Linked DNA regions of Homo sapiens. The protein of the gene in region 1 interacts with the protein of each later gene in a pairwise test. Each region holds a gene or a part of one and is shown in the gene's direction. Other genes may lie near its edges. The genes, in order: SMUG1, PROP1, ZIC1, FAM222B, PATZ1, KRTAP8-1 and GLYCTK.

Region 1 (3,804 bases):
AGGTTGCAGTGAGCTGAGATCGCGCCACTGCACTCCAGTCTGGGCGACAGAGCAAGATTCTGTCTCAAAAAAAAAACAAAACAAAACAAAACAAAAAACACAGATTCCCAGGCCTCACACGGGACCTACTTGTGTTGGGGGTGGGGTTGGGACACTATGGCAAATACTGCAGTGTTCTGAGGAGGGAAGACTTTATCAAAGGGATGGTTTGAGCTGCATTTTGAAGGATGGGAGTGATTTGGATATGTGGACAGGTTGGGGAATCAACAGTCCTAGTTGACTGGATGACTGCTGGATGATGTCCTGGTTGACTTCAGGAGTGTATTTGGTTGGACTGTAGAAATGGTATGTGCAAGGTTTTGGGAGTTGAGGCAGGAAAGGCATTTTGAAAATGTGAGTAGAATGGTCAGGTTGGAACACTGGGTTTGAATGGGAGTGGAGTGAAGCAATGGCCTTTGCAGTTTACAAAGCTTGCTGTCATGTTCCTGCCCCCTCCCTTCTCCTTCCTCCCACCTCCCTTCTCTCTTCCCTTTCTTCTTCCTCTCCCATTTCTTTTCTCCCTTCACCTAAACATAACATCTCATTCCATCCTTACGTCTGTTTGTTTGTTTTGAGACAGTCTCCCTCTGTAGCCCAGGCTGGAGTGCAGTGGCACAATCTCGGCTCACTGCAACCTCTGCCTCCCAGGTCCTGGTTCAAGCAATTCTCCTGCCTCAGCCTCCCATGTAGCTGGAATTACAGGCACGTGCCACCATGCCCAGCTAATTTTTGTATTTTTAGTTGAGACGGGGTTTCACCATGTTGGCCAGGTTGATCTTGAACTCCTGACCTCGTGATCCACCTGCCTCAGCCTCCCAAAGTACTGGGATTACAGGCATGAGCTGTTGCGCCCGGCAAATTTATTTATTTATTTATTTATTTATTTATTTATTTATTTATTTTTTATTTTATTTTTTTTTGAGATGGAGTCTTGCTCTTTTGCCCAGGCTTGAGTGCAGTGGCACGATCTTGGCTCACTGCAACCTCAGCCTCCCGGGTTCAGGCAGTTCTCCCTGCCTCAGCCTCCCGAGTAGCTGGGATTACAGGTGCCCACCACAACGCCCAGCTAATTTTTTTTTTTTGAGAGAGAGTTTCACTGTTGTTGCCCGTGCTGGAGTGCAATGGCACGATCTTGGCTCACCGCAACCTCCACCTTTCAGGTTCAAATGATTCTGCCTCAGCCTCCAGAGTAGCCGGGATTACAGGCACGTACCACCATGCCTGACTAATTTGTATTTTTAGTAGAGGTGGGAGTTTCTCCATTTTGGTCAGGCTGGTCTCGAACTCCCGACCTCAGGTGATCTGCCCACCTCAGCCTCCTAAAGTGCTGGGATTACAGGCTTGAGCCACCACGCCCAGCATGCCCAGCTAATTTTTGTAATTTTTAGTAGAGACGGGGTTTCGCCATGTTGGCCAGGCCAGTTTTGAACGCCTGACCTAAGGTGATTCAGCCGCCTTGGCCTCCCAAAGTGCTGGGATTACAGGCATGAGCCACCATGCCTGGCCTTCCTTATGTCAACATTATTAAGTGGATATTATTATTCTTTGTATTTGAAGGTGGAAACCTGAGGCTCTGGCCATGGTTGTGTAGCTCGTAAGATTCTATGAGGAGTCTGTAATCATCCTACTCGGTATTCCTGAGTGTGGGAAAGAAGCTAGGCTGGGGTTAGGGGGTTGTAGAATTAGCAGGGTGGCTGATCAAACCATCTAAGGCAAGATGGCGTGGGTGGTTAAAGCATAGCCTTGAGCCAGAGAGATTGGGCTCAACCAAATCCAGCTTTATTACTTACTAACTGTAAGACCTTGGGCAAGTTGCTTAATCTTGCTAAGCCTCAGTGTCCTCACTTATAACAGGGGAGCAGTAATACCCACCTCATGGGATTGTTGTGAGGATCAATGAGGTGTACCTGGTGCAGAGCAGTCGCTCACCACCTGGAAGCTATTGTAATTAGCCTTCCCAGGTCTCTGGGCTGTGGCTGTGCACTTGCATTTCATTCTTCAGCGCCGTGCTTTCCAGAACAGTCCATTCTGGCTGGGCTTTTCTTTTTTAGGATGACCTTAAAGGTGCTGAAAGGATGCCACCAGTAAATGTTTATTGAAAACCTACTATGTGCTCGGCATAGCCCAGGAACTAGTGACCTATGCCTGATGGAAAGGAGATTTGGAGTGGGAGATGTTTGGTGGCTATGGCTTATCCTCACCAGGTGCCATGTGAAGAGGACAGATAATGGAAGTGGGGAGGGAAAGGGCCCTTCATTACCAAGAACTGAGATGAGTTCAGTCCTACTTGGTGGTTGGTAGATGACTGACATGGTCTCTTAGGGTCCCTTCTGAGCCCAGGAAATGGTAGTGGGGGCCCTGGCAAGCATGGATCCCTCCTACTCTGTGGCTGAGGGTTGATGGGGCTTCTGTCCATCTCTTTTCCCAGGTGACAGCGGCATGGACATATGCCCCAGGCTTTCCTGCTGGGGTCCATCCATGAGCCTGCAGGTGCCCTCATGGAGCCCCAGCCCTGCCCTGGAAGCTTGGCTGAGAGCTTCCTGGAGGAGGAGCTTCGGCTCAATGCTGAGCTGAGCCAGCTGCAGTTTTCGGAGCCTGTGGGCATCATCTACAATCCCGTGGAGTATGCATGGGAGCCACATCGCAACTACGTGACTCGCTACTGCCAGGGCCCCAAGGAAGTACTCTTCCTGGGCATGAACCCTGGACCTTTTGGCATGGCCCAGACTGGGGTAAAGGGTTTGGCTTCCCCAGTGGGTGGAGTGGGGGGTTCTAGGTGGATGCTTGGCTGGGTGTGCTGTGGAGAAGGAGCATGTGCATGGCTGTAGACATGTGTAGGTCCTCCCGCCCCATTCTGTCTCAACACATATACTGGCTCCTGTGGTCCGAGGCCCTCTCCCAGCGTCTCTGCCCGTAATTAACCAAGCACATTAATGGTAGTTTCGTTTTCCCTGTGAGCTGGCCAGTAATTGCCTCTGAGAGCCCTTCCTTCCGCCAGCCCCATCCTTACTTTACTGGATCTCCCCTGTCCCTGAAGTGTGGTTGGGGTCAGAAGAGGGACTAGGACTGCTGGGTCCTCAGAAGAGACTGGTTGACAGGGGTGGGTATGTAAGAGATGCAGGGCGTTCTGGGAACCTGGGTTCTGTTTCCTAGCTAAGGCGAGGTTCAAAACAGAGCCTGGCTCCAGTGCCTGCCCGCTTTTCTTTCAGGGCTCAGGATGAGTGACTGCCCCCAGTGGGGGTGCTTGGCAGGTGGGGGAGGGGAAGAGGCTTCAGGGCAGAAGGCTCAATCGCTTTTATTGACCCCAACTGGGTGATGAAAGGTGATCAATGATGATCGATGGAAATGACAGCCTGAGGCTTGGGGCTGAGAGGGCATCCAGACAGCAGTGGTCAGCCCATCCTTGTGCCTCCTTTAACCCTGGCTGCCTTTCTGTCTCAGACCATCTGTCTGTCCCCAGTACTAACCATCAAACCCTGTGTAGGGCTAGATATCTCAATGTAGTCCCTGTACTTAGTCCCAAAGGCTAGTTGGGCTAGAGGGAAACAAATTCTTCTGGACCACGGTTCACAATGAAGAACTGGAAAAAGACAGACAGGCTCAAACCATAGGGCCAAGAATCCTTGTCTCAGGCCTTTGGGTGAAGGTAGGGGTAGGGGGTGCAGGCTGGATCCTCATGTAAGGTATAAAGAAGTCAGTTGGTCCAGAGCCCGGGCCTCAGGTCTCCAGTTTGAAGCCTTTCATGTCTCTCTCCTTCCTCACAGG
Region 2 (4,823 bases), on another chromosome or scaffold:
TGAGTGTAAGGTACAGAGGTCAGAGCCTCTTGGAGGGTCTGTGTGTCCTGGAGAGTGAATGCATCCTCAGTGCCCTCAGCATTCAAGGACCTGACAGGGCCAGAATGGGTACCCCAGGCAGCAGGATGCATTGTAATTCAGTGTTCTCTTGTGAGTCCAAGCTGACTGCATGTCACTGGGTCTTGCTAGGTTAGGACTGCCATGGGGTTCAGGGTGCTCCAGGAGGTCAAAGTGTGTCCTAGGGTAGGGGAGAAGGGTTAAAATTAGAGCAGTGTTTCCCAATTTTACGTTGCTATGGACTAAACGTTTGTGTCCCTCCAAAATTTCTACGTTGAAGTCCTAACACCCAACGTGATGGTATTTGAAGGTGGGGATTTGGGGAGGTGATTAGGTTTAGATGAGCTCATGAGGGTGAGGCCCCATGATGGGATTAGTGTCCTTACAAGCAGAGGAAAAGAAACCAGAGCTGGTTCTTTCTCCACCATATGAAGGCACCGAGAGAAGGCAGCCACCTGCAAGCCAGGAAGAGAGCCCTCACAGGGGAGCCAAATAGGCGGACCCCTTGATCTTAGACTTCCCAGCCTCCAGAACTGTGAGCAATAGAAGTCTATTGTTTAAACCACACAGTCTATGCTATTTTGTCATGGCAGCCCCAGCTGACTAAGACCCACGTGCACTCGGTTCTCCTGGAGATCTTGATACAAGGCAGATTGTGACTCAGTAGAATGGAGGTGGGGCCCAGGGATCTGCATTTCCAACATGCTCCCATTGCTGGTGCTGCTGCTGCTGCTGATCCATGGACCACACGGTAAGCATCGAAATCCTAAAGGATTCTGATTTCCTGTCTTGAATCACCAGCGTGTTTTTAAAGGACCTGTATGACGGCATGACCCTGGGAATCAGACTGTCCTGTGGGTACAGTGTGTTCCAGGGGGTCCATGTGTTCTCACTGGGTCAGTGTATCCTGAGAAGCAGAGGTGAAGTGTTCTGGGTGTCAGCGTGTCCCAGGGGATCCTAAGGTCCTGGGCTGTTGCATCATCCTTAAACTGTCAGAGTGTCCTGGGGATGTCAGAATGTACTTCCCAGGTCTAAGTAACCTCAAGGGGCAGAGTACTGTGGGACCAGGCTGTCCTGACTGCTCAGAGATTCCCGGTGTCAGGATTTTCTTGAAGAATCAGAATGTAGTATGTCACGGGAATCTCAGTCTCTTTCCAAGTCCTGGAGTCTGGAGTGGGTTTGGGGGTCAGGATGCAGCTGGAATGCAGATGTTCAGGTCAGGGTTTTCGGAGAGTCTGGGTGACCTTGGAAGGTCATGGTGTCCTGGGGGTTCTGGGTGAATGAGGAAGTGGTGTTTGAGGGAGGAAATCAGAAAGTACTTGAGAGCTAAGGTGTCCTGGAGGCCCATTCTCCGGAGTGGGTTCAGGTTGGCCTGAGCACTGGCTGGTGTGTTCTGAACTATCAGGGTATCTGAGAGGGGCCAGCATGCACTTGTGACTTCTCCTTTTTTAGTTTCCTGGAAGCAGATCCTTGAGTGTCACCCCCATGCTGAGACGCCAGGCAGGCTCCACTCCTGGGTCCCTTTCCCCTGCTCTTCGTTCCTCTCCCCACAGTGGGGTTGTGAGGAGGGGGTCTCGGGAGGAATGCATTTTCTCCTCCTCCCCCTGCCTGCTCCCAGGAGGGGATTTAACAGGACAAAAGAATCCGGTCCTCTGGGAATACGAGCCCTTGGCCCCAGTCCCTGGACCCTCCGACAGAACACCTTCCCTCATCCGGCTTGTGATCCTCCCTGAGCAAGGGGGCTCTGGTGACCGTGTAGTGATTGGATGGGCCCACAGGGGCGAGGAGGAGGTCACTCCTCCAAGACTCAGGGGTGGGATGGGAAAGTAGGCAGCTGACAGAAGGGAGCAGCATCCCGGTGGGGAGAAGGGCCAGGCAGAGAAAAGTAGTCAGAAACAGAGCAACAGGTGAGGCTGAGGCAGGAGATTGAGCTGACACTCAAGCCAAGGAAGGGGGAATTAGGAAACAATTAGAAAAAAAGTAAAGACAGTGAAAAAGTCAGAGACAGCTGCCTGCACCTACACACACATTCAGAGACAGAGTCCCAGAGGGTGGCATACACAGAGGGAGAAGGGGAGGGAACAGGTGTGGAGAGGAGCTGCGGAAGCAGAGAAATCTCAAGTCAGAGATTCAGGGACACTTGGTCCCCGTGGCGAGCCATGGAAGCAGAAAGGAGGCGCCAGGCTGAGAAGCCAAAGAAGGGGCGAGTCGGCAGCAACCTGTTGCCTGAGAGACACCCGGCCACTGGGACCCCGACCACCACGGTGGGTGAGTGACCGTCCCGGTGTGCGTGGGTCCCTGAGGAGGCAGCGGGTGTGAGGCTGAAAGCATAGGCTCCATGAAGAAGGTTAGGAGGAGAAATTAAAACCCGAATCCTATCATGTTAAAACTGTGGGAACCTTTGAAAGTAAAAGGGACTGGAGCACCCCTTGGCTTTACAGACTGGGGAACTGAGCCCTTGGCAGGAGGGGGCGGCTGAACAGCTCACATTGCAGTGGGGATGTGAGACAGTTACCTCTGTCCCCTCACTCCTGACCTCAGAGTTGGTTAGCCCAAGCCACTGCCTTCTCTGATGAAGGGAGCTGGAGGGGCCAGGGCTTTGGGTCCAGGGCGGGAGGGCGGGCTCCGTGTGTGTGTCCCCCATGGTGGACAGTGAGCTCTAGGAGGGTCCACGCCCTTGGGCCCCATGGGGATGGTGCCTCGGCTCCAGACATCTTTTCTTGGTGTGCGCCTTCCAGGTGTGTCCTTTCCCTCCCCGTTCTCTCCTCCCCAACAGCTCTCAGACTAATTAGTGTGGGGGCTTAGGGAGCCTGTGGGGAGGAAGGCAAGCCTTTCCCACGAGCTCAAGTTCCTGCAGCCTGGTGGCTGGGCCAGGGCAGGGGTAGGGAGGAGATGAAAAGTAAGTAGGGGAGGGTGTGTCTGAGCGGAAGAGGGGGGTGCCCATCTTCCCAGGTGAGGGGTGCGGGAGATGGCAGCAGTCTGAAGAAGGCACAGGTTGAACAGGAGCCTCGCCAGCAGGGGACAAGCACTAGGGTCTTCCGTAGACAGCTGGGACGATTGTTAGGGTGCAGGTGCACACAGCAGACCCACAGGGTGAGCCCCAGGTGGTCGTGTGTGTCCAGAAGGGTGAACGTACATGGAGGGGTATGTGTCTGGCAGTGCAATAGGAAGTGGGCAGACAGTAGAGTTGCCAGGTAGACAGTGCATGAGTGCCAGGGCCAGGAATGAGTCTGAGGGTGTGCCCTGTGTAGACAGCACAGCCTGGTGTCAGAGACTCAGAGGCAACCAGGGGCCGAGGCTGAGCAGGGTGCAGGAACCAGGCTATGGCAGCTAAAAGATTCCCGGTGGGGCAGGGCTGGGTGCGGTGGCTCAGGCCTATAATCCCAGCACTTTGAGAGGCTGACATGGGAGGACTGCTTGAGGCCAGGAGTTTGAGACCAGCCTGGGCAAGATAGCAAGACCCCATCTCTAATTTTTTATTTTTTTAATTAGCTGGGTATGTTGGTGTGCACCTGTAGTCCCAGCTACTCAGGAGGCTAAGGCAGTAGGATCACTGGAGCCCAGGGGTTCGAGGCTGCAGTGAGCTGTGATCACACCACTGCACTCCAGTCTGGGAGACAGAGCAAGACTCTGTCTCAAAAAAAGACTGGAGCAGCACAGGACGCACTGAGCGCAATCCCGGGACAGGCACATGTGGTCCAGCACCGAGGAGCGTCCTCCTCAGAAGCCGCCCCTCCCTTCTCTCCGTTCTCAGACTCGAGTGCTCCACCCTGCAGAAGGCTCCCTGGTGCAGGAGGGGGGAGATCAAGGTTCTCCCCGCAAGGAGGACAGAGGGGCCGCCCGCACTCCCGGCGCCGCCACCGCACCACCTTCAGCCCAGTGCAGTTGGAACAGCTGGAGTCAGCCTTTGGGAGGAACCAGTACCCCGACATCTGGGCCCGAGAGAGTCTTGCCCGGGACACTGGCCTCAGTGAGGCCCGAATCCAGGTGATGCTCCAGGATCCTCCTCTCTCAGGAAAGAAATGCAGATTTCTTTGGTGCTATCATAGAATGTTGGGCATTATAACCCTAACCTAAATGGTCACCAGACACAGGCCTCATCTCACCACCAGCATCAGAGCAACTGCATTGAGAATATCATATCACTTGAGTTTAACCCTAGCTATAAGCTAATCTAACTTGAATTTCAACACCTACCCTCAATATTTAATAGTGATGCCAATTCCGGCTGGGCACAATAGCTCACACCTGTAATCCCAGCACTTTGGGAGGCCAAGCTGGATGGATCACCTGAGGTTAAGAGTTCGAGACCAGCCTGGTTAACATGGTGAAACCCCATCTCTGCTAAAAATACAAAAAATTAGCCAGGCATAGTGGCAGGTGCCTATAATTAATCCCAGCTACTCCGGAGGCTGAGGCAGGAGAATCACTTGAACCCGGGAGGTGGAGGTTGCAGTGAGCCAAGATCATGCCACTGCACTCCAGCCTGGGCAACAAGAACAAAACTTTGTCTCAAAAAAAAAAAAATAGTGATGCCAATTCCAACAGAAGTTCAATCCTAACTGTCCATATTCTTACAGAAGCTTGTCCCTAACCATAGCCTTGAAACTCAATGAGCCAAATGCTCCCTCAATCCTAACCCCAGGGTTGGTTAGCCTTAAGTGTAAACCCTACCCTAAATTCAAGCTTGTCTATAGCAATTACATTTATCTACAGTCTTAATCGTTAAACTTAACCCTAGGGGAAATTTCCCATTCTCTGGGGAA
Region 3 (4,739 bases), on another chromosome or scaffold:
AACTACGCGCAGTTGTTGAATAGACTTTGCGCTAGGCAAAGACAGGTTAATCGAGGGCCGCATCGCGAAAACAAGCGAGTGTTGTATGTTTGCACTGAATCCAAATGTCTGCATTTTCCTAACTAAATCAAAGGGAGTGTTATTTCTTTTTCTGCTCACTCATCTGAAGGTAAGTAAATTTTCTCTGGCGATCAAAAGCCTGGTCGGCAACAAAGACCGCGCCCGCTTTTTCCACCGTCCTGGTGTGGCGAGTTGCGGAATTTCAATAACTGTGACAAGGGTGACTGATTTGTGAACTAGAAAAGGTTTGAATGTCACAAAATTTACATTGGTCCTATCTATTGGGGATTTAAATACCGAAAAAGTATTCGGGGATCTCTAGGGAGCTTTGGGCAGCCCAAGGGAACAATAGCGCGTTGGGAAATTTACAGTTTTACCTGAATGAAAGGGGCCCAAGTAGGGAACAGGAGTGAGGAGAGACAGGGTTAGCGGGGGCAGTCGAAGGAGACAACGGAAAGGCAGAAAACAGAAAAATAACGCAAGAGAGAGAAAAAGTAAAGGAAACTGGCAACAACGTTTCAAATTTGCCATTAAAAAATTCAAACCTCAATAACCTGGGAACTTAAGCGCTTTCATCCACCTGTGTGTGTGAGTGTGTGTGTGTGTGTGTTTTCGGGGAGGGGGGTGCGGTGGTGCCGGAAGTCTGATTAGATAAAAGCGAGAAATACAGAGGCTGCCGGTTACACTGAGAAATTACATTTTTTTGTAAAGAGAGCATAGTGCCCGTGTGCTCCCAAGATCTTAAATTATAAACAGGAGGGGGACAAAGCAAGAGGGAAACAAACTTCAAAAGGAGCAAATAACAAAAGCCTCTTTTGCTGCTCTTGAAGGGAGGGGGGAAGGGGGAAGAAAGAAAAGAAAGTTGCTGAATCGGGACATTCTGGAAGTGCCTTTGCTGTGTTTACTAGCCCCATCCCCGCCTGCTGCACCCGGAGACGTCTGAAGTCTCTAATCGCTCAGCGAAAAGTTGGTTTCGGGAAGGGCAGCGCCGGGGTGCGGGAGGGCAAAGGAGGAAGAGGAATGCATATGACTGTGAGAAGGAAAAGTAATCGTGGCAAAAAAAAAAAAAAAAAAAAAAAAAGAAAGAAAGAAAAGAAAAAAGAAAAAAAATTTCCGTGAGAAGAGGGAAAAAATTTGGCTAAAAAAAAAGTTGCTACTCCTGGCAGCCCTGGTTTGTCAAAAGGGGATGTCAAGCGCTTTACAATACCTGGGATTGATGAGGCGGGCGGGCCAATGAGCTGCGCGCGGCGCCTCGGCGCGCCCTCCGTTGGCGCGGCGGCTGAGGGCGGGGGGAATGCGGGCGCACCAATGGGCGCCAGCGTCGGCAGCACGTGACACCTCCCCCCTGCTCCCATTCATCAAGGGGGGGACGGTGTCGTCCTTTCAATTCATTTATCTGCAGGAATGATTGCTGCTATCAGTCTCGCGCTCACCGCCCGGCTGAGGAGGTGAAAGTTTCTCCCCAGGAAGATAAACCGCAAAAGACAATATTGTGCATGATTTGCGCCTTTTCTTTGGCTTTTTCTTTCTTTCTTCACCCCCCCACCCACTTTTTTTTTTTTTTTTTTCAAAAAGCAGAGAGGGAAAAACGGAGAGTGAAGGAGCGAGGAGGCGAGCGTGAGAGAAAGGAGAGAGAGAGAAAAGAAAGGGCGAGGGGCTAGTGGAGAAGTAAGGAGGGGCGCGCTGCGCGAGGCGGAGAGAGGGCGAAGCAGTCGCGGCACTGGCGCTCACATTCCTCTATGCTACAAATCCAGGAGGAAGTTTTTTTTTAGGGGGCTGAGATGCTCCATGCCTTTCCCCGGGCAGCCTTGACGCGCGGCCCTCTCGGCAGAGACTGAGCGGCGAGAAAGTGCGAGCCGGGCCGGCAGAATCTGCCTGGCGGGCGCTGGAGCCTGCGTTACTCGCGGCCCGCAGCCGTCCGGCTACTTTGCGTTTGGCCCGGCCAGCGCCCGGGCGCGCCGCGCCATTGCCTGCAGGCTAGGACTTCGCGAGGTGGGTCGACTCCCCCTCCCTCCTCCTCTTCTTCCTCCTCTTCCTCCTCCTCTTGTTCCTCCTCCTCCTCCCGATTTTCCCTCCTCGGCTGGCGAGGGTGGGGGGGGCGGGGGAGGCCGGGGCTCGCCCCGAGCAGCCACGATGCTCCTGGACGCCGGCCCCCAGTACCCAGCGATCGGCGTGACCACCTTTGGCGCGTCCCGCCACCACTCCGCGGGCGACGTGGCCGAACGAGACGTGGGCCTGGGCATCAACCCGTTCGCCGACGGCATGGGCGCCTTCAAGCTCAACCCCAGTTCGCACGAGCTGGCTTCGGCCGGCCAGACGGCCTTCACGTCGCAGGCGCCAGGCTACGCGGCTGCTGCGGCCCTGGGCCATCACCATCACCCGGGCCACGTCGGCTCCTATTCCAGCGCAGCCTTCAACTCCACGCGGGACTTTCTGTTCCGCAACCGGGGTTTTGGCGACGCGGCGGCGGCAGCCAGCGCACAGCACAGCCTCTTTGCTGCATCGGCCGGGGGCTTCGGGGGCCCACACGGCCACACGGACGCCGCGGGCCACCTCCTCTTCCCCGGGCTTCACGAGCAGGCTGCCGGCCACGCGTCGCCTAACGTGGTCAACGGGCAGATGAGGCTCGGCTTCTCGGGGGACATGTACCCGCGACCGGAGCAGTACGGCCAGGTGACCAGCCCGCGTTCGGAGCACTATGCTGCGCCGCAGCTGCACGGCTACGGGCCCATGAACGTGAACATGGCCGCGCATCACGGCGCCGGCGCCTTCTTCCGCTACATGCGCCAACCCATCAAGCAAGAGCTCATCTGCAAGTGGATCGAGCCCGAGCAGCTGGCCAACCCCAAAAAGTCGTGCAACAAAACTTTCAGCACCATGCACGAGCTAGTTACGCACGTCACCGTGGAGCACGTAGGTGGCCCGGAGCAGAGTAATCACATCTGCTTCTGGGAGGAGTGTCCGCGCGAGGGCAAGCCCTTCAAAGCCAAATACAAACTGGTTAACCACATCCGCGTGCACACGGGCGAGAAGCCCTTTCCCTGCCCCTTCCCTGGCTGTGGCAAGGTCTTCGCGCGCTCCGAGAATTTAAAGATCCACAAAAGGACGCACACAGGTACGGAAACAGCTGTAGGACCCCTACCCATTCCCACTTGGGCCTGGGACCCAAACCGAAAGTCAGCGGCCAGGTCGCACAAACGCAGCCTCGGTGGGATCCCGGGCGTCAGGTTCCGGCAGGCAGGCAGGGAAAGTGTGCGCTGATTTTTAGTTTCTGGCTTGAAATTATGGAAAACACACACACACACACAGGGCGGACGAGGAGGAGCTGGGTATATAGATTTTTTAAATGAGAAACAAAAAAGGTCGGAGAACAGGAAGCCAAACCTGGTTTGGCGGAGACCTTGGTGCTTTCGAAGCCGGAGAAAGTGGCTGGCTCCCGGCAGCCGCGGAGGCGCCAGCTGCTCAGGCTGCAGACAAATCTAAACCCTTGCTTGCTGCCAACATCTCTCTCCGTGCACTTCACTGAGGACTTTGCCAAAGGAAAGAGCTGAGGAAATTGAGGAGGCCGGGTTAAGGGCGTAGAAAGAAACAAAACAGAGACAGAAAGAATTGAGACAGAGTGGGGAAAGGAAATAATTTGGGATTGAGGAGGCTTTTGGAGCTTTATGCATATTTGAAGAGTTCAGTTTTAGTAGTGACTGGTTTTAAGAGTGGGTTTGAGGGGTGGAGAAAGTCCGAGGAAGGCAAGGAAGAACTTGTTGTCTATTAGACTCCATGAGGGTGTTTTCAAAACACCAGATTCCCCTCTTTGGCCTTTAAAAATAATCAAGACACAGGTCCGGAACAGTTAAAAAAAAAAAAAGTTCCCACGAGCTCAGGGTTGTAGCCTGGCATCAGACAAAACATTCTGGGCCCCCTGCCCCCAAGAGGCCGGGAACTGGGTCTCCTTTCCTATTCTGATTTTCCCGGGTGAGATCTGAGAACCATGCTTGAGACTTCGGGTTTAACGCCCGAGTCAGGGAAGAATTTGCGGCGTTGAGTTCTCTCCGGCCCAGATTACGCTATAAAATGTGAGTGTATGTAGGGAGTGGGGTGGGTTGGAGGAGGCGACCAGGGGATGCGGAGCGTCGGGGAGGGGGCAGGGGGAGGAGAGAAAAGCAATAGGGCAGGAGAATAAGCCGCAAACGTGAAAACTAGAAACCAGGAGCCAGGTGGAAGCAATCCGAAATCGTGTGTAGCTCTGGGTAATACGAGTTTCCAGATCTGATGCTAAAAACCGACTCCTCCTACTATTAATTTTTTTAAACATAAAAATAAAATGTAGATCCAATTGTATTAGGGATTACAATAGAGTTAAGATATTTATAATTCCACTGCAGATGTAAGAATTTATTGACGTTCCGGGTTTTTAAGCTTGCAAAGTGCTAATCCTGGGCTGCTGGCTTTTTGTTTTATTTTTTTTCTATTTGTTTAGTTTTTGAAAAACGGCCGCGGTATTTTTTTCTAATTAGACCCCTCTCATTCTACTTTGGCACCAGGGGAGAAGCCCTTCAAGTGCGAGTTTGAGGGCTGTGACCGGCGCTTCGCTAACAGCAGCGACCGCAAGAAGCACATGCACGTGCACACGAGCGACAAGCCCTATCTTTGCAAGATGTGCGACAAGTCCTACACGCATCCCA
Region 4 (4,750 bases), on another chromosome or scaffold:
GAGTAGCTGGGACTACAGGCGCCCGCCACCACGCCCGGCTAATTTTTTGTATTTTTAGTGAGACGGGGTTTCACCGTGTTAGCCAGGATGGTCTCGATCTCCTGACCTCATGATCCGCCCGCCTCGGCCTCCCAAAGTGCTGGGATTACAGGCGTGAGCCACTGCACCTGGCCTATTTAAATTTTTTTAACATTCCTCATTGAGCACTCAACTTGTCTTTTTTTCTTCTCTTTTTCCCCCTTACGTTGTATCTTGGGCCTTATGTGTCCAAACTCTGAAGAGAGGAGACCAGCGCTGGAGTTGAGAGAGAAAAAAGAGCCATGGTGATGAGGAGAGAGTTTAGTCCTGTACCTCCTCTTGCCTGCTGCTTTCAAGTCTGTTTTGTTGAATTCTCAGGACTCGATTGAGCTTAGTCTCTTGTCAGGCTATGCCAAAGCAGCACAGTAGTCTAGGGACTGACAGTTGGGCCTCACTGGACTTTAGTGGTTTTCTTTTACCAGTTTGAAAAAGGGCCAGGCTCACAGTGAGAGCTGGAAAGCAGGGGACTATTTGCCTGCGAATTCCTCAATAGCATACACGCGATGCCTAGAACATTTCTGTCCAATAAACAGCATGTGCTTGATAAACATACTGAACTTAGCGGTGTCCCCAGTGCATTCTAGGCGAGGTCACCTCCTTGACAAGGTCCCCAGGACTTCATTGCACCTCCTAGCTAGTAGCGTATTCTAGGATGGCAAAGCTGCCTTTACATAATTACCCCCGATACATTCTAGACACGATCATCTTGAAAGAGACCCAAATTTTACCAGGCATGGTGACTCAGGCCTGTAATCCCAGCACTTTGGGAGGCCGGGGCGGGCGAATCATCTGAGGTCAGGAGTTCGAGACCAGCCTGGCCAACATGGTGAAACCCCGTCTCTACTAAAAATACAAAAGTTAGCCAGGCGTGGTGGTGCAAGCCTGTAATCCCAGCTAGTCAGGAGGCTGAGGCAGGAGAATCGTTTGAACCCGGGAGGCGGAGGTTGCAGTGAGCTGAGATCGCGCCACTGCACTCCAGCCTGGGCAACAAGAGCAAAACTCCGTCTCAAAAAAAAAAAAAAAAAAAAAAGACCCAGGCTGGGCGCGGTGGCTCATGCTTGTAATCCCAGCGCTTTAGAAGGCTGAGGTGGGTGGATCACCTGAGGTCGGGAGTTCGAGACCAGCCTGACCAACATGATAAAACCCCGTCTCTACTAAAAATACAAAATTAGCTGGGCGTGGTGGTGCATGCCTGTAATCCCAGCTACTCGGGAGGCTGAGGCAGGAGAATCGCTTGAACCCGGGAGGCGGAGGTTGTTTGAGCCGAGATCACGCCATTGCACTCCAACCTGGACAACAAGAGCGAAACTTCGACTCAGAAAAAAAAAAAAAAAGACCCAAATTTATCATCAGTGGTCACCTCAGAGCACCTGAATTCAGGCCTTTAAGTGCAAGTAGGATGCAGAATTCTGGAAGAGCCAGTAAGTCTGTGGCTCCTTGGGGAAGCGCGATCCAAGGGTTTAGTAACCTAGGCACGGTACTCCAGAGGCGTACCCTGAGGCAGCCGCCAAATTCTCTAAGCCTCAGAATTCTTCAAGGCCAGCTCCCATGTCCACTAGAGACCCAGGGGTCCAGACCATCAGGCACTGAGGAAGACGCCCCCGGCAGGGGCTGCGCAGGCGCGTGCGGCCCGAAAGGGCCCAGGCGCTACACGCTGCGCAGGCGCAGGAGCGGCTCCGGGTAGTCCCCACAGCTGCGCCGGTGACTGAGGGGCCGGGCAGTGGAGAAGTGGTGGCGGCGGGCGGCGGGCGGCAAAGGAGCAGCCATGAGGGCCGGGCCCAGTCACCGACCGTGAGTAGTGGTGGAGGGGGAGTGGACAACGCGTGGGAAGAGGGTAACTTAGCGGAAGGATACATGACTTTGTGGGGTGGGCTCTGACTGTGGGAGACGGAAGGGCGTGGGGGAGGTACAGTTTGAGGTGATGATGGGAGAATTTGGGGCACGGGTGGCCCGGTCGCCGGCCGCAGAGCTGGACAGCTTGGTGGAGGGGGACGGGGTTGCGTGCTGTGGAGTGAAGCAGCCCATTTGTATCATCCCTTCCTCCAGGAGCTTTTGGTCGCCTCTCCTTTCCGCTTCTTTCAGAGAATGATTGCGGGGGGAGGGTGGTGGAGGATGAAAGCTCTGCTGGAGCTTAAGAAGCCACCTCTGAACCAGGCAGGGGAAGGGTCGGTCTCCCGGAGTAATAGGCTGCTCTGGGTAGAGGATGGGAGTCGGGAACCCTCTTTTGAAAGCCGGGAGGGGTCTAGGGAAAAGAGCTAGGGGCTTAGAGTCAGGCAGGTTCGAAAGGAAGTCCACCATTGATAAAGCTGTTAGGTAACCTTGGGCAGGTCCCACTTAACCTTTCTGAACACCAGGAAGATGTCATGCTTCAAACGGGCTATTGCAAGCATCACCTATGTAATTGAGATTGTTTATGCAAATTGTGAATTGTAAGTACTATGTTGATGTTAATGTATCACCAACAATGTTAGTGGAATTTAGACCTTACCGTTGTTAATGGAATGACTGATTTCTCTGTTAAGATAAGAAGCGTATTGTTTGTAAAACCTCAGTAGACACATATGTGCTTTCTTTATGGGCACAGCAGACCATGTGCAGAACTACCAGTTCTGTAATGTGATAAATTAGCCATCAGACTTCTGTAGGAAAAATACCGTACTCCGGCGTTTTTACAAACGGTTTGCAGCTCCTCACCCGAAAGGATGGAGGGCCAATCTATTAAAATATTTTCTGAACATAGCTAACTCATGTTGCCTTATAACACAGTTGGCACTAATGTGCTTTAACGAGTTGAGAAAAGGCCGGGTGCAGTGGCTCATGTCTGTAATCCCAGCACTTTGGGAGGCCGAGGCGGGCGGATCACGAGGTCAGAAGTTGGAGACCAGCCTAGCCAACGTAGTGAAATCCCGTCTCTACTAAAAATACAAAAAATCAGCCGGGTGTGGTGGCGGGCGCCTGTAATCCCAGCTGCTTGGGAAGCTGAGGCAGGGGAATCACTCGAACCCGGGAGGCAGAGGTTGCGGTGAGCCGAGATAGTGCTATTGCACTCCAGTTCGGGTGACAGTGCGAGACTCCGTCTGGAAAAAAGAGTTAAGAAAACTAGTTTGAGACAAGCTGGGAGGGCTGCCCAGTGAGGGATGTGAAAATATAATTTGTTTATTATATTTTATTTTATTTTTGAGACGGAGTCTCGCTCTGTCGCCAGGCAGGAGTGCAGTGGCATCATCTCGGCTCACAGCAACCTCCGCCTCCCGGGTTCAAGCGATTCTCCTGTCTCAGCCTCCTGAGTAGCTGGGATTACAAATGCCCACCACCACGCCTGGCTAATTTTTGTAGTTTTAGTAGAGATGGGGTTTCACCATGTTGGCCAGGCTGGTCTTGAACTCCTCACGTCAGGTGATCCACCCACCTCGGCCTCTCAAAGTGCCGGGATTACAGGCGTGAGCCACCGTGCCTGGCTATTTTGTTATCTTTATTTTTATTTTATTTTATTATAATTTTTTTTGAGGTGGGTGAAGGAGTCTTGCTCTGTCACCCAGGCTGGAGTGCAGTGGTGCGAACTTGGTTCACTGCAACCTCCGCCTCCTGGGTTCAAGCAATTCTCCTGCCTCAGCCTCCCTAGTACCTGGGATTATAGGCACGTGCCACCATACCCGGCTAATTTTTGTATTTTTTTTAGTACACTCGGGGTTTCTCCATTGCTGGACAGGCTGGTCTCAAACTTCTGACCTCAGGTGATCCGCCCGCCCCAGCCTCCCAAAGTGCTGGGATTACAGGCGTGAACCACCGTGCTTGGCCCATTTTATTATTTTTAAATTATAAAAAGTTCTCCTTTGCAAAGGAGTCTCTGGCTGCTCCGGGGACCTGTCGCTGTTTTGGAGGTCAGATATGCATAAGGCAGCCCTCTAGCTCTGCTTTTTGTTACCCTGCTTGTCAGTGGGATCTCTCAGGTGGAATATCTCAGAAGAGGAGCCCAAGAGGTGTCTTGGTTTTCCTGAGAGGCTGAAGAAACACTCCTGAGACGTGTTTTTTAATGTAGACAAAGCAGAGGACAAACTATGTGTTTATGGAAAGAGAAAATGGGTTCTTTTTATTTTATTTTGTTTTGACACAGAGTCTTGTTCTGTCGCCCAGGCTGGAGTGCAGTAGCGCAATCTCGGCTCATTGCAACCTCCACCTCCCGGGTTCAAGCAGTTCTCCTGCCTCAGCCTCCAAGTAGTTGCGATTACAGGCACCCACCACCATGCCCGGCTAGTTTTTGTATTTTTAGTAGAGATGGGGTTTCGCCATTTTGGTCAGGCTGGTTTCGAACCAGGTGATCCGCCTGCCTCGGCCTCCCAAAGTGCTGGGATCACAGGCGTAAGCCACCAAGCGCAGTGAGAAAATGGTTTCTAAAGTAGAGATGCAGACTCCTTTTAAAAGGACATAGACACTTCAGCTTTGCTGACTCTGAGGATTGAGACCTTAAACTGTCAAGGCGTTTTGGCAATTGATGAGTGATTGGTCTTTTACCTGAGTAAAGGTAGGGAGGGGCTATACTAGATTCTTGAAGATTCACAAATAAGGGGAGTGAATTTACAGGAATGGGAAAAATGAACCTGGTTGTTTTTAACTTCTCTGTCTGGTAAAATGTGTTTCACTTTTCTTTCCTGGAAATGCACAGTGATGTATA
Region 5 (4,244 bases), on another chromosome or scaffold:
TCCTGATGCCAGAGAGAATGAAAGAGGCCAGTTACAGAGACTAGTGCCATAGCTTAAGTAGAAAGGCCATCTGAATGTAGGGGCAGGAAGCCTCAGGCTTGACAGTGGCATGTCTCTTTGGGACTTGGCCTGAGTGTCCTTAACTGGCCCAGATGCCCCAGGTACTGCTGGATTTATGAGCTTAGTGGGCTGGGACATTTCCCCCACATGGAGTTCAACCTGAAGCTGAGAGGCTGGAGCAGCTCAGACCTCCCTAGCTTCCACGGGCTCCACTTCTTGGGGGCTGGTTAGAGAAGGAATGCGTTGAGATGGGCATATGCTCGAGAAGAAGGGGGCCAAAGAGCCCAGGGAGCTGAACCTTCATGCATTGCCCTTAGAGTTTTCCAGGGCTGTGGGAGAAAGCTGCTTGAGACTACCCCTGAGGCTGCCTGAGTTCAAGGGCTACTAAGGGTGGGGGTGTGCACTAGTGCCCTTGGTACCACTTGGGCCCCATTCCCAAGCTGCTCAATCCTTAGGAAGAAAAGCTTTAGGAAGTCTGGGAAGGGAGCAGGACTGGGGCTCAGTGTTGAGTGGTGATGACCTGCACTCAGGGTGCCTGGGCCAGGACCTGGCAGGCATGGCCCTTAATTACAGCAGGCTGTCTAACTAAGCACAGGGCTGTGGGCCGGGCAGCTCTTCCGAGTGCCACAGGCAGTCAAAGCATTCTGCCTCTGGCTCACTCTCTTCCCATCAGCGTCCCTCTGTCTTCTCCCTGTCTCTAGGACAAAGAATGCTCTTCTCCTGACACCCCAGCATGGAAGTTCTGGATGTTCCCTTTGAGATCTGTCTCCCTCCGCCCCTTCTCTCCTGGGTTGTGTGACCAGGCTCTTTCATGTTCTGTGTTGTCTGAACTTCTGCTGTGCCTAGACTTTGGACTTTCACAGGCTCCCCAGAAAACCTGGGGACTGCAGCAGCAGAGGGTCAATCCTGGCACAGAGAAGCCAACAATCACTTCAGCTTGGCTTTGAACACAGGGAAAGCGTTTGTCATGTTTGTGTTTTTTCCCCCAGCAGCAGATTTACATTCCTAATTCTGTTTGCTCAGGCGAAAGTTAGCTTTCATTCCTTGAGAGATAATCAATGGAGGACAGGGTGGGGGAAGCCAGCCCAGTCTGGGATTTTAATTTTGCTTAGCTAATCCCCAAATGGATAAGCCACTTGTGGGTAACTGAAGTTTGGCTATCCATCATCTTTAGGTAGCAAAGCATGACAGGCAAAGCCTTTAGAGGACAGATCCCAAAAGAAGGTTGGCAAGAGAAACAAGGCATCTCTTTCCTATCCCTCTTGTGGCTCCCTCTCCCAGAGACTGTGGAAGACAAAATCCTGAATATGCTTTCAGCCCCCGAGTAGCTGGGACTACAGGCGCCCACCACCATGCCCAGCTAATTTTTTTGTATTTTTAGTAGAGACGGGGTTTCACCATATTGGCCAGGCTGGTCTCAAACTTCTGACATTGTGATCCACCCGCCTCGGCCTCCCAAAGTGTTGGGATTACAGGTGTGAGCCACTGCGCCTGGCCTCAGCCCTGTTTTCTTACACCTGATCCATGTTGGTTCCTTTGAGTTCTGAGGCTTAGAACACACCCTCTCTCACCATTGGAGGGGTGGTCTTTGGGTCGCTGCCTGGCAAAGCTAGCTCTTGTCCCCAAATAAATCAACAGGTGTACCTCTCTTTCCCGGGGGTGTTTATGCAGCCCCTGCTCTGGTTTAGAGACTGCTGGGCTGTGTAGAGGTTAGGAGTTTTTTTCTCCTACTGTGGCCTGTCACTGGGTCATGAGGTCCCTGGCTGACGTGGGGCCCACATGTGGCCATGAGAGCAAGCATCCATGGTGCTTTCTGACTTCCTACATGCTGGAATTTCCTTGCACAAATCTGTTCACCTTTCCCTTTTGGGAGTCCTGGCTGCCAAGTACTGTACACTGTGTTATAAAGTATGAGCACCTTTCACTCAGCAGAAGCTCCCTCTCCTGAATCTGGAGATGGTAAGAGCACAGGCTCTGGGACTGGTTCTTAGTCCAGCTGTCTCATATCCTCTCACGGCCTCCACTGGCCCAGCTGTAAACTGGGAGAGATCAGAATCCCCCAGGGTGTCCAGGAGGATTGGTAAAGTACTGGCCTGGGTGTGGTGGGGGTGGGTGTGCTAGACTTTCTTTAGTAGCTGAGTCTTGTGTTTTAAGCAAGTTCACCTTCTGAAGGTTTCCTCATTTATGATATGAATACACTGAATATATAAAACAGATAAAAGCAGTATGTCATTGCTACAAATTCAGTTCAAATGTATAATGTTTACTTAAAAAGACAATGACAGAAGAGCTAGGTAGGCTGTGCTAACGTACACAGATATTTGGGACTGGGGTAGTAAACAGTGGTGTCTTCTACCTTGACAGCATTGCATGCGTTTGTTTCTTGCTATGGCTGTACAGTAAGGAGACAGTTAGATGTCTGTATGTGTTGACAGTGTTCAGCCACTTACCTTGAGCTCTCAGGTTCTCAGGATGTGCTTCTGTTAAAGAGAGATGGCAGAGGCAGTTCCGTTCTAGCACAAGGTAATGGGGTGGTCTTCAGTGGGTTACCATTTGATCTGTGACACAAAGGTGAATGTTGCTTTCTCTTACAGTTCTAAAACAGTAAACACACACACACACAAAAGAAATGAGTCAAAATTGACTAGAACCCATGAAACACCTCCCTGGAACCAAAATAGCTTGAAAGCCAACGGATTCAGCTCTTCTCAGGGCTTTCCCAATATTCTATGACCCCCACAGCTGGAATGCCTTTGTAAGCTCCAGCTGAGGAAGGGATGTTGTGAGGAGACTGATCACTGGTACTAAGTCAGGTGCTCAGGTACAGGAAGTGCCTGCCAACCTGAGTCCTCCTTCCAGGGTGCTGGTTCTGACCTTCAGCTCCTGACTCATCCAACCCCGGGGGCCTGGCTGTGAGTTGGTGCTCAGCTCACACCACAGCTTTCCAAAGCCACGCTGTCTTGGAGGGTGATCACACAGCTTGCCTCGGAGGGCTGCTGTCAGGATGGGTTGCATGAGATAAGTGCCTCTAAAAGGCTGAGCACCGTGCCTGCCTGGCACACAATGAATGCTTAATCAATACAGGGTAGTATCATCATCCTTGCTGTCACCAGCACTTCCCCAGCTTAACGTTTCACAAATGCTTTTTTTTTTTGAGACGGAGTCTTGCTCTGTTGCCCAGGCTGGAGTGCAGTGGTGTGATCTCGGCTCACTGCAAGCTCTGCCTCCCGGGTTTATGCCATTCTCCCGCCTCAGCCTCCCGAGTAGCTGGGACTACAGGCACCTGCCACCATGCCTGGTTAATTTTTTTGTGTTTTTAGTAGAGACCGAGTTTCACCGTGTTAGCCAGGATGGTCTTGATCTCCTGACTTCGTGATCCGCCCGCCTCAGCCTCCCAAAGTGCTGGGATTACAGGTGTGAGCCACCGCGCCCGGATTTTTTTTTTTTTTTTTTTTTTTGAGAGGAAGTCTTGACTTGTTGCCCAGGCTGGAGTGCAGTGACACGATCTTGGCTCACTGCAACCTCTACCTCCCAGGTTCAAGTGATTCTCCTGCCTCAGCCTCCCAAGTAGCTGGGATTACGGGAGTCTGCCACCACACCCGGCTAATTTTTTATATTTTTAATAGAGATGGGGTTTCACCATGTTGGCCAGGCTGGTCTTGAACTCCTGACCTCAGGTGATCCACCCATCTCGGCCTCCCAAAGCGCTGGGATTACAAGCATGAGCCACCGCACCCGGCCCACAGACACTTTTGAAGCCTCTGGCCCTTGCTGTCTGCTAATTCTCATGTCGTCAGAATTGCCACTATCATTTAATGGGCTGCTTTTTCAATTCAAACTCGTGAAAATATTACGAATAATTATCTCTGCACTTTGTCCTGCCTTTCCTTTCCATTTCCCTGGCCAAGACTAATGTCACTTTTGAATAAAATGAACAAATATAATTCTTTGTATAAAACTAGGGGAAACCCAGGGATACAGAACAGGAAGGCTGGTTTATATGCCAATAACTCATCTGTAAATTCATGTAAATGTAATTCTGTGCATTATAGCTAATGCACCTAAAGTCAATTCTTAATGTCTAAGGATGAGCAAATGTGTAACTCTTCATTGTGTAGAGGGGTATAGAGCTTAGCTTGCCATGTCCTGGGTACATTTCCAGTAGTCATTTAGTTAGTACCAGT
Region 6 (3,247 bases), on another chromosome or scaffold:
GAAACCCTGTCTCTACTAAAAATACAAAAATTAGCCTGGCGCAGTGGCATGCACCTGTAATCCCAGCTACTCGGGAGGCTGAGGCAGGAGACTCGCTTGAACCAAGGAGGTGGAGGTTGCAGTGAGTCCAGATTGCACCACTGCACTCCAGCCTGGGCAATAAAGCAAGACTCTGCCTCAAAAAAAAATTATATATATATCTATATTTAAAAAAAATGCCTCTGCTGTAATTAGTCTACTGCTGGCTAGAACACTGGCATGGTTTTGAATTTTCCAAGTGTCTCATCTTGTTCTTGGATTCAGCCTTTGATTCCTAGCTGCTGATAGCAGGGAGCAAAGTTACCTCTGGGTTATGAAGTAAAATCTGGGAGAGCTCATGTGTAATACATATCTGTTTTGTGGCCTTCTAGAATGATTCCTATTATCTCTGTGCCTATTTCTGTTCCATATGCCCTCTTTGGTATTTGTTCTGTAAGTTCTCTACTAAGTGCCACTGTAAGAAATCTTAATGCAGGTGTCTGAGAATAATATATCAGGTCTTACATGATCCAAGATAGTTTTGATCAGCCTTATCCCTCCTTTAACTCATGCTTGAGAACTGACTCTCTGTTTAGAAAGGAATAACATTCCTTCTTTATCCTGGGGTGCATGATCATTGTAAAAGTGAAATAACTGATTTCATGTTGTCATCTGGCCCTTTATAATATCATCACATTTGTCAGACAATCTAGTTTCATTAGATCTAAGAGAAAAAAAATTTTAAATCTTACAATAAATTTTTTAATTCATTTTTCTGTGTTTACCTTATTAGTTTCAATGTTTAGTTTGAAATATGTTTCAGGCCAAAAAATTAAATTTGTTTGACAATTCAGTACAAGGATTAATCCAAATACTCCGTTTTAAAATCTCAATACTATTAATTCAAGTAGTCTTCTAGAAATGTGATGTTAGGTATAGTTTAGGAGGGGACTATGATTAAGATTACACTTTTAACCAGTTTCCCAAACACGGTAGCTGTAGTAGAGGAAAAAAAAAAGACTCTTTCTCATGAGTTCCATTGCACTTGTCTTTCATATTCCAAAAAAGAGAATCCTTGAAGCAGGTGAATACTAAGACATACTTTAATTTTGAGAATTTTGAGATAGACTCACTATCCATTTGTTATTTTATATATTAATGTATTTAACACATATTTATTGAATTTCAACTGTGTGTTGTGGAAATTCAGAGAGCAAGAGGACTGCATAACAGCTAACAACCTCAGAATATTTCTTGATATTATATACCTGCTTACAGAGTTATATGGGGTCTATAAGACAGAGTGCTTTGAAGTCCTGGCAATAATTTTTTTTTTTTTAGGAAGGGAAATAATTTGTTTAAAGGCATCTTCTCCCTGTATTGCATCACACGAGAGCTTTCTTAAGCCACTGTAAAGACATCATAAGCAAGAGCAAAACAAGTTAATGAGCTTTTTAGAATGTAAATTGGTGTCAAGAATGAAAATGAGGGCTTTGTGTTTTTCACCACCCACCAGAGCTGGGATATATAAAGAAGGTTCTGAGACTAGGAATCCATCCCACTGAGGAAACGCACTCTGTTGCTACCTAAGCCCTCCACTCCCGACACCATGCTCTGCGACAACTTCCCCGGGGCTGTCTTCCCAGGATGCTACTGGGGCAGCTATGGCTACCCGCTGGGATATAGCGTTGGCTGTGGCTATGGCAGCACCTACTCTCCAGTGGGCTATGGCTTCGGCTATGGCTACAACGGCTGTGGGGCTTTCGGCTACAGGAGATACTCGCCATTTGCTCTCTACTGATTGGCTGAAATCCCCGAGGTGTAGCATCTTCTCTCCCTTGAAGGCTGAGCCCCACATCTCCAGGTTCCCCCCGTATCCACTCCTTCAGTCCTCATTTGCTCATCAACCTCAGAGACACTGCTTTCCAACTTACCTCGAGTCCCAGGGGAGGAAAATGAAAAAGCAGACGCTTCCTCAAGCTGCCTCCCCTGGCTGATGTTCTCTGGGACATTTTCGGAAATTTGACCTCCCACTTGTCATGAGCTACTTTTGAATTTTCCATGACACTCATGACTTGTGATGAAGTCATGGATATGTCTATCAAAATCTCAATAAATTTGTCTCAGCTGGTATAATATTCTCATGCTAGAGCGAAGTTTCCTTTCTTGGTGTGTGCATATTTTCTGTTACATGGGTGGTGGGGGGGAAGTGAATTTATTTTTCTCATGTGGGCATTAGGAACAGCCAGAAAGCAAAGAATTACTGATCCTGTGTGATAAGCAGGTAAGAGGGTGGGTTGCAGGTAATGACTTAAAAGGTTGCCTGTTTGAACCTTCTTTAAATTTTATGATGCCCACCTCCAACCCAATGGAGCACCATTTATTGCTCGGGGTCCCCTTCTCATCTCACTACTTCTGCTCCTCCGCAAGAAAACCCAACACAGGAGGAACTTTTTCAGTCACTTCCATGTTAGTCCAAATGAAATCCACTGTGTTCCCTTTCCCAGGGACTAAGGATTATAGACTAAAGTGCCATGCCCCCTAATGAAGGATGCTGGAGCATTGAGTAATAGAGAAGCCACAGACATCCTTTGGAAATCTGAGAGTTTTTAAGGTGAAGGGATAAATCCCCTATATCAAACCATCTAAGGTGTCTATTTTGTAGCTTTGAAGCACCTGGGTTATTCACAACCATGACAAGTTTCTTAATCTTTATAGAATCAACACCAGATAGCGAGTTTCACTTAAAAGATATGAGCTGTAATGAATATTTCTGAAGATGTATCAGCTTTTCTCTGTGTTCCTTTAGGGAAGGGAGCAATTTCCTTTTATAAGCCAGATAAAAAAAGTCTCAATCCTTCTATTGAAAACATCTTATGTATAGTACAAATATTCTTGGTGGTAACAAAATTTGGCTTAACCCTGCTTTTTTATTGAATATGTGCAAGTGATTATATTGCATATGGTTCACTTCGTAGTTAAAAACATAAAGACTATTTGGCGAGGTCATTTCAGAAGAGAGTATTTTCTCCACCATACTTTATCTAATGTATATCTTTTTTAAAAAATCGGGAAATAATTGATTGTTTTCCTTTTTAGCGATAGTAGACAAGGTTACAGCCAACAAAATCTCCAGTTTGCAACTTTCTAGCAGCCATATGTTAATTCATGCTGAGAATTGTGAATTAATTAAACATGCAGGTTAAAATAGAACAGAAAAAGAAAAGTG
Region 7 (3,209 bases), on another chromosome or scaffold:
CCTTGGCTGTTTGGTTAACTGTCACCTTCCACTCAGGGCCTCTGCTCTATATCTATTCCCTTCCAGCCAGACTGGCAGATGGGGGCTTCCCCCTACCCCTGAGGATGAGGACAAGCCCCTCGGCCAGTTCAGCGTTCCCGTGCTTCTCCCTTGGGCAGCCTCTCTCTTGAGCCCCTCACCCTGTTTCTTTCTGTGAAGCGAGAATGTCTGAAAATAAATAGGACCATGCCATGGGTTCTCAGTGCGCCTTCCCTCAGAGTGAGGCCTCACGGGGGAGCCGCTGGGAGGGGAGCGTGGTACGGCTGCAGCCACAGTACCAGGGCCTGGCAGGACTCTTAACACCCCTCTACTGGGCTGGGTACGTGCAGGATGTGCCTCGCATAACGGGAGCCTGTGCCCATCCCTCTGGAGTGTGTGAGGGTTGAGCTTGGCTCCTGACAGCTTTGATGTGCGTGAGCAGAGACCCCAGGGAGGACAGGCCTAAAGACTGCAGTCTGGGGTGACCAGCCACCCACCCACCCAACCATGACTCCACCATGGCACTGTCACCATGGCTTCTCCAGCCTCAGCTTGTAGGCCTCGTTGGATGGATGTCCTTTCTGTCTTTGGACAGCCCTTAGCCACATACTGCACTTCTGGTTGAGCTGAAGTTTGTCCCACCCCCCAGTGCTGTTTCCTTGTGACAGCCCTTGTCCTAGGCTGAACATCCCTAGTTCCTTCAGCCACTCCTCTGGGGACCAAGTCCAGACCCTGAAGTCAGCCCTTCAGTGGGGGTCCCAGCACTGGGATGGTGGGTCCAGCCAGTGATGAGGTCCAGTGACCCACACCTCTTCCTGTGACCACTGGCGGGAGAAGAGGCAAGTGGGAATAGAGGAACGGCTGTGTTGGCCTGGCCAGCAGCCTGGGTTGAGAGAGGGAGGTGCCACTGTCCTGCCTCCTTTTGAGCCCCCTTGCTCAGTGTCAGAACCCTCCGCTGGCTGTCCCCGCCGTGCGCCACGGCTCCAATCCCTATATGAGTGAGCAGTAGAATCACATAGGAATAAAAAGCCATAGAGAACAGCGAGGCCTGGGGCTGCTCTTGCAGGCACTTCTTCCACCCCAACCCTCCCCTCCTCCCTGAGGGTGTGGAGGGGCCCTGGGCCAGGGCTGGCAGGACTTTCCCCTGGGAAGGGTTTCCCTTCCCCACCTGGGCTCTGGGCAGCCTAGCTTGCAGACAGTTCATGACCTGGGGGCCTGGCTCACACAGGGCAGGCTGGAGATTGGGAGGGAGGTAAACGTGGTAAGCGGGCTCTGGGGACCAGGGAGGTTTAGGAAAAGGGGAGCTTGCACCCCACTGGGATGCGCAGGCACCGCTTCCTTTCCTTCTGTGCTGGCATGGAGTTCCTGCTGACTAGGGTCACAGTCTCTGGGGTTATGGTGATCCTCGCATGATCCTGTGCCGTGGTGCTCCTCTGGCAGCGTCTACATGTAGCCTGTTCCTGCCTCAGTCCTTGCTCTTGGGAGCATGAGTATTGGCACTGGGTTCCAAGTTCCAGGCAAAAGCAGGATAGGAGAGCTGGGGCAGGGGCTGCAGGAGCTGAGGGCCTGGCAGCCATGTCCCCAGTGTGTGTGTGGGTGGTAGGTGTGTGAGTATACAGACGTTGGTGTTGGCGTACTCAGAGTGGGAATGCATCTCTGAGTGTACACATAGATACTTAGTACAGGGCACATGACTCCCTGCATCCCTGCTGAGGGCTTTGGGTATGGATAGGATCTTGCAGGAGGTTCCCCCTGCTCTACATTGACCCCTTCCCTATACTTCTGTTTGTAGGGGCTGGGAGGCCAGGGCCCGGATTGGACCCCATAGGGCCAAATGGTCTGTGAGCCTAACCCGTTAGATTTGCTCACTGGATACCCCAGAGATAAGAAAGGATGTATTTGGCCACAGTCTAAATGCTGAGATGAGAAAACCCTGCACAGTGAATGTTTTGATAGGATTCATTACTTGCTCCATAAATGTCAATTTTGGATCATTGAAGTGCCCGTCCCTTGCTCTTGGCTTCTGTTTCTTCCGGCTGCTGCTGCCCTCGTGCCCACCTCATCGTCATTTTCTGAAGCTTCCCCTGGCCCAGCTGGAGGATTTCACCATGGAGGGTGTCTGGCCCTGCTGGCTATAGCAACCCTCACAGGCCTCTCCATTCTCTGCACTTGGCATGAGCCAAGAGCAGTGGGGCAGTGGGCCTGGGCAGCCCTTCAGTGTCAGCTAGTCCCAAGCGTTTGATTTATAGTTGGAGATTCAGAGAGAGAAGGTGGCTTACTGGGGACTGTACAGTCCCACATAAGGGCCACAGAACCAGGGTAAGAACCTAGTTGGAACCTGCTTGACTATCCTCTGCCACTCTCTGGGGCTCAGATACCCTGGGGCCAAGCAAGGGCTCAGCCAGATCCAGGGGATCTACTTCTGCTTCCCCACTGCCCCTCAAGGGCTTGGGATGGCGACACAACCATGCTTGGCCTCTCCAGGGATCCACACAGCAGATGTGTTGGAACCTTCTTGTCTCAGAGGGACAGCTCCATTGTGTGTGTGATTTGGCAGAAAACCATGCGCAGTTGAGTGGTGGGCTTCTACATAAATGTGTGTCTGCATCTGTATGCACATCTGTGTGTGTGTGCATGTGTGCGTGTGCATGAATATATGTATAAGCATGTGTATGTGTAGTGCAGCCCACAGCCAGTCTCTGAGCTCTGCTGTGCCCCATCCCAGGGTGGAGACACACAGGTGTAGTTAGAGTGTAGGGGATACAATGAGCAAGTTGGGCAAGAAGGCCCAGAAGACTGGCAGAGGCTAGTGTGCCTGGCCGAGGGAGTTGACTTCACATTGACATCAGTGGCAAACCTCATGAAGATTTTGGCAGGGAATAATGTCATGAAGCTGTTTTGGGACTTTAATGCTGAGAGCCAGCTTCCTTACAGCAGAGGGCGGGGGTTGGGGGCATGCAAGGAGATGGAAGGGGTTGCAGATAGGAGAGGTGCATTACCAGGCTCTGAGACCCTCTCCCACCTCCCCTATGCAGCCTCAGCTCCAAAGCCTTTAGCCAGCCCAGGGAACCCTTTAGATGCCTGCTTTGGAACCAAGGCCGAAAGCCCTGGCTCAAACACTGTTGGGAGTAACTGAGCCCATCTGTCTCTGGGAATGCCTCAGGGTGTTGAGGATTTGTGGGGGCAGAGGC

The links.
Region 2: the proteins of SMUG1 (region 1) and PROP1 interact in binary tests that used the Homo sapiens proteins (3 or more experiments, as listed by UniProt).
Region 3: the proteins of SMUG1 (region 1) and ZIC1 interact in binary tests that used the Homo sapiens proteins (3 or more experiments, as listed by UniProt).
Region 4: the proteins of SMUG1 (region 1) and FAM222B interact in binary tests that used the Homo sapiens proteins (3 or more experiments, as listed by UniProt).
Region 5: the proteins of SMUG1 (region 1) and PATZ1 interact in binary tests that used the Homo sapiens proteins (3 or more experiments, as listed by UniProt).
Region 6: the proteins of SMUG1 (region 1) and KRTAP8-1 interact in binary tests that used the Homo sapiens proteins (3 or more experiments, as listed by UniProt).
Region 7: the proteins of SMUG1 (region 1) and GLYCTK interact in binary tests that used the Homo sapiens proteins (3 or more experiments, as listed by UniProt).

Annotation. Positions count from the first base shown.
Region 1 is NC_000012.12:54,182,623-54,186,426, reverse strand, and holds part of SMUG1 (single-strand selective monofunctional uracil DNA glycosylase), read left to right. Parts: intron 1-2,467; 5' UTR 2,468-2,486; coding exon 2,487-2,771; intron 2,772-3,803; coding exon 3,804-3,804.
Region 2 is NC_000005.10:177,993,327-177,998,149, reverse strand, and holds the start of PROP1 (homeobox protein prophet of Pit-1), read left to right. Parts: upstream 1-1,907; 5' UTR 1,908-2,216; coding exon 2,217-2,325; intron 2,326-3,811; coding exon 3,812-4,044; intron 4,045-4,823. UniProt on the Homo sapiens protein: Possibly involved in the ontogenesis of pituitary gonadotropes, as well as somatotropes, lactotropes and caudomedial thyrotropes.
Region 3 is NC_000003.12:147,407,920-147,412,658, forward strand, and holds the start of ZIC1 (zinc finger protein ZIC 1), read left to right. Parts: upstream 1-1,445; 5' UTR 1,446-2,193; coding exon 2,194-3,175; intron 3,176-4,598; coding exon 4,599-4,739. UniProt on the Homo sapiens protein: Acts as a transcriptional activator. Involved in neurogenesis. Plays important roles in the early stage of organogenesis of the CNS, as well as during dorsal spinal cord development and maturation of the cerebellum.
Region 4 is NC_000017.11:28,839,801-28,844,550, reverse strand, and holds the start of FAM222B (protein FAM222B), read left to right. Parts: upstream 1-1,760; 5' UTR 1,761-1,869; intron 1,870-4,750.
Region 5 is NC_000022.11:31,336,080-31,340,323, reverse strand, and holds part of PATZ1 (POZ-, AT hook-, and zinc finger-containing protein 1 isoform long C), read left to right. Parts: intron 1-2,302; exon of another isoform or gene 2,303-2,656; intron 2,657-4,244. UniProt on the Homo sapiens protein: Transcriptional regulator that plays a role in many biological processes such as embryogenesis, senescence, T-cell development or neurogenesis. Interacts with the TP53 protein to control genes that are important in proliferation and in the DNA-damage response.
Region 6 is NC_000021.9:30,811,601-30,814,847, reverse strand, and holds KRTAP8-1 (keratin-associated protein 8-1), read left to right. Parts: upstream 1-1,573; 5' UTR 1,574-1,627; coding exon 1,628-1,819; 3' UTR 1,820-2,151; downstream 2,152-3,247. UniProt on the Homo sapiens protein: In the hair cortex, hair keratin intermediate filaments are embedded in an interfilamentous matrix, consisting of hair keratin-associated proteins (KRTAP), which are essential for the formation of a rigid and resistant hair shaft through their extensive disulfide bond cross-linking with abundant cysteine residues of hair keratins.
Region 7 is NC_000003.12:52,293,241-52,296,449, forward strand, and holds the end of GLYCTK (glycerate kinase), read left to right. Parts: 3' UTR 1-2,017; downstream 2,018-3,209.